Regions from separate parts of the Homo sapiens genome. Here region 1 is linked to region 2. The links come from fine-mapping of genetic effects on gene expression. A gene starts in region 2. The other region holds a variant in brackets. All regions are shown on one strand. Distances are from middle to middle. Region 1 overlaps PACS1 (phosphofurin acidic cluster sorting protein 1). Region 2 holds the start of RAB1B (RAB1B, member RAS oncogene family).

Region 1 (2,909 bases), 110 kb before region 2:
GAATGCAAAGTACTTAAAACTGGCAAAGCCAGCAAAAATTGAGGACTGACTTCTACAGCACCGCAAGGCTGTGATACTGGCAAAATAATAGACATGTACATAAATGAGAAGATGGAATCCAGAAAGAGATCCACACGTAAATAGACAATTGATTTGCAGCAAAGGTCCTGAGGCAATTCAATGGGGAAAGGAACATCTTTTCAACACATGGTACAGCAGCAACTAAATATCTGTGTGGAAGAAAACAAACATTAACCCATACCTTATACACTGCCCAGAAAGCTCAAAACGGACCAAAGTCCTAAACGAGTTAAAACTATAAAGCTTCTGGAAAAATTATAGGGGAAAACGTTCATGTGACTTCTGGGTGTGAAAAGATTTTCTAAGTAGGATACAAAAAGCACATACCATAAAATAAATGAATGCTAAATTGGACTTTATCAAAATTGAAATGTGCTTTTTCAGAAAGGAATGAAGAAAATGTACAATATGGGATAAAATGTTTACAATAGATAAATCTGACAAAGGATTGTAAAGAACTCTTACAGTTCAGTAATAGTAACCCCATTTTTTAAATGCACAAAAGATTTCAAAGTATACTTCACAAGGTAAGATAAAACAGTGGCCAGGAGCTACATAAAATACTTCATATTATTAATTATCAGAGAAAAGCAATTTCCAGCCATAATGAACTACCGCTCTTTACCCTCTACGTATGGCTAAAATTTAAGAGACTGATAGCTCCAGGTGTTGGCAAGGATGTGGCACAAGCAGAACTTTCATATCCTCTGTTGAGAATGTAAAGTAGTACTAGTTTAGAGAACAGTAGTTTGTTTTAAAGTTAAACAACAGTTACTCAAGGATACAGTAATTCCATGCCTAGATATTTATCTGAGAGGAATGAAAACGCAGAGGCTTCTCCATGAGTGTTTGTAGCAGCGTATTCATGACGGCCAAAGGCTGGAAACAATCCGGGGGCTCATCAGGTGAATGGATGAACAAACTGTGCTGTCCCAGTCCAATGAGAGCTCTGAGCAGGAAAAAGGAGCTCTAGACAGCATGGATCTGGCTCAAAAACATGCTTTGTGAAAGAAGCCAGACCCAGAGGTGTACATGCTGTATATTTATATAAAAGTCTCAAAGGTGCAAACCAGTGGATAGTGACAATAAAATAAAGGAGTGATTGCCTGGGGCTTGGGTGGAGGGAAGATTGCAAAGAGGCGTAAAGGAACTTTCAAGGGTGATGGAAATGCTCAGTGTCTTTATTGTGGGGGTGTTTCCACTGGTATATTGTATGTAAATTTTGTTTATTGTCTGTAAATTATATCCTCCACAAAGTTGTTTCATTTTTTAAATTATATATATATATATATATATATATATATATATATATATATATATATATAGTTTTTTTTTTTTTAAGACAGAGTCTTGCTCTGTCCCCCAGGCTGGAGTGCAGTGGTGTGTGATCTCGGCTCACTGCAACTTCTGCCCCCCGGGTTCAAGCCATTCTCCTGCTTTCCGCAGCTGGGATTACAGGCATGTACCACCACGCCCAGCTAATTTTTGTGTTTTTAGTAGAGATGGGGTTTCACCATGTTGGCCAGGCTGGTCTTGAACTCCTGGCCTTAAGTGATCCATCC[G/A]TCTTGGCCTCTCAAAGTGCTGGGATTGCAGGCGTGAGCCACTGCACCTGGCCTAAAGTTGTTTTTTAAAAAAATCTTTCCGGCTGGGCATGGTGGCTCATGTCTGTAATCCCAGCACTTTGGGAGGCCGAGGCAGGCGGATCACAAGGTCAGGAGATCGAGACCATCCTGGCTAACACGGTGAAACCCTGTTTCTACTAAAGATACAAAAAATTACCCGGGCGTGGTGGTGGGCACCTATAATCCCAGCTACTCGGGAGGCTGAGGCAGGAGAATGGCGTGAACCTGGGAGGCGGAGCTTGCGCGAGCCGAGATGGCGCCACTGCACTCCAGCCTGGGCGACAGAGCGAGACTCTGTCTCGAAAAAAAAAAAAAAATCTTTCCATGGTTTAATAAAGGCAGCTATTCAGTATTCACTCTCTAGGTGATGATTATACTTTAGGTTGTTTATTCTCTTTCCCAGAACCTCTTTCTTGTTCAGGTATCAGATTCTTCTTTGTGGTGATGTTCTTCTAGGAAGAATGTTCTGACCCCAAGTTCTGGTCATTTTGCTTTGTTTGATAATTTTGTCTCCCCTCAATTACGTAGGATGGTACATGTTACCAAGTTGTGACCAATGACAAATGAACAGATGTCTTCAGGGTCAGGAGAGACTTTTAGAAAAGATGGAGAAATGAGATGGATTATATTTCCTCCCTCCCCAACCCCACTAAAATGACAGTAAAGGAATTTTCTTTTAAAAAAGTTACAAATCTATAAGGATGAAGAGATTGGGAGAGGAGATCACAGTGGGCCAGAATTTTTCCCTACAAAATTTTGAAAACTGAAATGTAGGTGCATATATGATGAGTCATTTAGGTTTCAACTTCATCTGCTCCACTAAGTATTTGCAGTGGAGGAAGCTAACAGGAAGCAATCCTGTTTTCAGCCACATGTGGGCCATGTTCTGAGATAAGTTTTAGGTACCTGTGAATATAGGATATACACTGGGGCTGAAAACAGGAAAATGAGTTGAAAGTCTGAATGTGGAAGAGTTAGCACCCCAGATCCCCATCCCCAAAGAATATGTGTGTCAAAGTCTAACCTGGGGAAACCCTGTTATAAATGAGGGTGGGAGGCAGGTTTCTTACCCAAAATAGTAGATCAAGTTGAAGTCTGCATATTCAGCCAGATCTTTCCACCTACCTTCCTGTCTTGGCTGTGGGACTTGTTATCACAGACACCATCTCTGCCCACCAAGACATTGAAAGACCTCAGAGCAACTGA
Region 2 (2,883 bases):
AGGACGGGGACCTCCCCTTAGTCCGTCCTCCCACCGCCGGGCCCTGCCCCGCATCCCGGCCTTATGCACTGCCCCTCCCACCCGGCCCCGCCCAGGCACGGCCGACCCCGCCCCGGGCACCGCCCACCGAGCCATCCTGCCTCGCCTCCCCCCACGCCTGCAGCTTCTCGCGAGGGGCGGCGACGGTCCCCTGGTGGCAGGAGGGGCTCCCCCTGTTGCGGGTGAGGCGGCTGCTCTCATATTTTCAGATGTTGCTGTAGAAATAAAGACGGTTTAAATCTGAGCTGGGCTTGTTTTGAGACGGAGGTCGGGGGCCCCCAGCGTCTCTAGACTGGGGTGGAGCCGGGAAGGGTCGTGCGTGAGTGGGGGACAGTGTGTCTCGCTCAACCGCTGTCCGCGCAGCTGGGCCCAGATATTGTGCCCCACCCCGGAATTGCGTGAGGGGCCCACAAGTCAGGCTTTCCCTAAAACACTCACTTGTGGGGTTCTGGAGACCGCGGGCTCTTATGAGCTCTGCTCCTCACAAAGTTTTTGACCTTGAGTGAGTTTCCCGAGACTCAGTTTTTTCATCTATGAAATGCGGGTGATGACGCGCGGCTGCGAGTTAGGACTGCCCAGTACACGAAGAACCCTGGACAAATGTACTTTTATTAGTCTTACTAGAACCCACATTCTCATTTAATGTTCACAACGTGGGTATTGGGAGGGCAAGGATGACTACCTCCGTCAGACAGATGTGAAACGTGCCAAGCCCAGCCCTAAATTGAGCTTTCTAAACACCGAGTCGCGGTCAGGCTTTCCAGCACTGTCCTCAAGCCTGAGTGCGTCCGGAGTGCAAACTACAAGCCCCAGAAGGCAATGCGCCAGCAGTGATGGGAGTGGGCGCGGAGGCGCGGGCTCCCCGACTACGCCTGCGCAGCGGGGCTGAGTTGGAGAACGTCTTAGACTACAAGTTCCGGGAATCAGCGCGGCGAGGCCTGAGAAGAAGACGTTTGCGCCTGCGCGTCGCGGGCGGGGCCTCTGGGGCGGAGCGGCCACCATCTTGGAACGGGAGGCGGAGCAGAGTCGACTGGGAGCGACCGAGCGGGCCGCCGCCGCCGCCATGAACCCCGAATAGTGAGTGAGCCCCGCCCGCGCCGTCCAGCGCAGCCTCGATCCCGAATACAGGGCTGTACGCTTACCGGGGTTGTCTGGCCCGGGTCAGGACTGTGCGGCGCCCCCACATCCGGGTCCCTCTTCCGCTGACCCCCCCCCACATCCGGGTTCTGCCCCTCCCCCCAGGGGCCCCAGGACCCCGGCTCAAAACCCCGAGCCCTCGCACCCGGGGCCCAGACGTGGCGACCCCCAGGGGCAGCTCTTGGAGCTCGAGACATCGGTCCTACCAGGCCTTATCGGTCAGATGACCCCGCAGTCCCGGTCACTTCAGGCCTCAGTTTCCCCACCTGCTGCTTGACAACTGTCCCGGAGTTTTGGAGCCCGTCTTGATAGTTTCTGGTCTCGGGTTCAGGCTTGGGCCCTTTAGGTCGGGCAGTGAATCCCTCTACCCTTCTCTTTCTCCTGAAGCCCGGCTCCTGGGGCCGGCCCAGAAGCTAGCCAACTACGCGGGAGGCCCCGAAGCGCCGCTTGGGTCGCGTCTCCCGCAGGTCCTCTCTTCCGGGGCTGCCTCCTACCCTTTGCCTGGGTCGCGCTGTCCTGTCGCTCCCGCCGGTCCGTCCTTTCCCGCCCTCTCCTCGCTTTTGCTCAGGCCCCCAACGCCACCGTCACACCCCTTCCCTTGGCTGTCACACTGCCTGTGAAGTTTAGATGAATATGGAATTTGCTCTCCCCCTTCCTGTGGGATTCTCTGGTCCTCAAACTCTCCTCACTCTTGGTCACTCCCCCTGCGGGTAGGTGGCCCACATCTCATGCCCAGGACTAATAGTTTTCCCCAAGTATCAGTTATCTTCTTCCTTTTCTGCCACTTCCTTTTTCTACTCCACATCCAGGTCTCAGATTTCCTTGGGGAAGGGTGAAGCTCTGAGCTGGATTGGGAGGGGAACAGAGAAGGGAACCAGCAGGCTCTCGAAGGGACTTTGGAGTCTGAGAAACCTGGTTTGAGTCTTAAAGCGATAAACTGTGTAAGTTAGGGCAAGTCACTTCCCTTCTCTGGCCTCTGGTTTCCTCATTAGTTGACAATGACAAAACTGACTTCATTGAACTGTTGTGAAGATTAAATGAGATGATGCATTTAAAGTACTTCACACAGGGTCCGTCCACAGGTTGGAACTCAAGTATATTAAATGTGATTACCTTTTGCCTTTTTTTTTTTTTATTTTGAGACAGGGTCTCTCTCTGTCACCCAGGCTGGAGTGCAGTGGCGTGACGATGGCTCACTGCAGTCTCCAACTCTTGGGCTGAAGCAGTCCTCCTGCCTTGTCCTCCTGAGTAGCTGGGAATACAGAGGCACACCACCACACCTGGCACATTTTTTAATTTTTTGTAAAGACAGGGTCTCGATATGTTTCCCAGCCTGATCTCAAACTCCTGGGCTTAAATGATTCTCGTGCCTCGGGCTTCCAAAGTGTTGGGATTACAGGTGTCAGTCACTGCACCCAGCCTTAAGTGCAATTTTCACTGCAACTTGACCACCTCTTCCTGGTGACTTCATAACAGGTTTTTGTTGTTGTTGTTGTTGTTGTTGTTGTTGTTGTTGTTGTTGTTGTCTCCAAAGAGATGGGGTTAGCCGGGTGCGGTGGCTCAGGCCTGTAATCCCAGGACTTTGGGAGGCCGAGGTGGGTGGATCACGAGGTCAGGAGATCGAGACCATCCTGGCCAACATGGTGAAATCCCGTCTCTACTAAAAATACAAAAATTAGCTAGTCATGGTGGCGCATGCCTGTAATC

The links. PIP is the estimated chance that this variant, and not a neighbour inherited with it, causes the effect.
Region 1: its variant is fine-mapped to the expression of RAB1B in whole blood (TOPMed, PIP 0.96).

The regions. Positions count from the first base shown.
Region 1 is chr11:66,154,849-66,157,757 of GRCh38, forward strand. The region is part of intron 1 of PACS1 (phosphofurin acidic cluster sorting protein 1); the gene reads left to right. Among named protein-coding and RNA genes, the nearest start is that of PACS1, 86 kb to the left of the region's middle. The variant G/A (reference allele first, on the strand shown) is at 1,644.
Region 2 is chr11:66,267,578-66,270,460 of GRCh38, forward strand. RAB1B (RAB1B, member RAS oncogene family) reads left to right here and starts at 1,062. Exons shown (of 6, transcript NM_030981.3): 1 at 1,062-1,116. The coding sequence starts at 1,103. KLC2 (kinesin light chain 2) reads left to right here. Exons shown (of 16, transcript NM_001318734.2): 16 at 1-283. It overlaps KLC2-AS2 (KLC2 antisense RNA 2), which reads right to left and starts at 834. Exons shown (of 3, transcript NR_186342.1): 1 at 722-834; 2 at 478-631; 3 at 1-254. RefSeq lists a silencer at 1-160 and enhancers at 271-320, 621-670, 791-1,120, 1,281-2,162.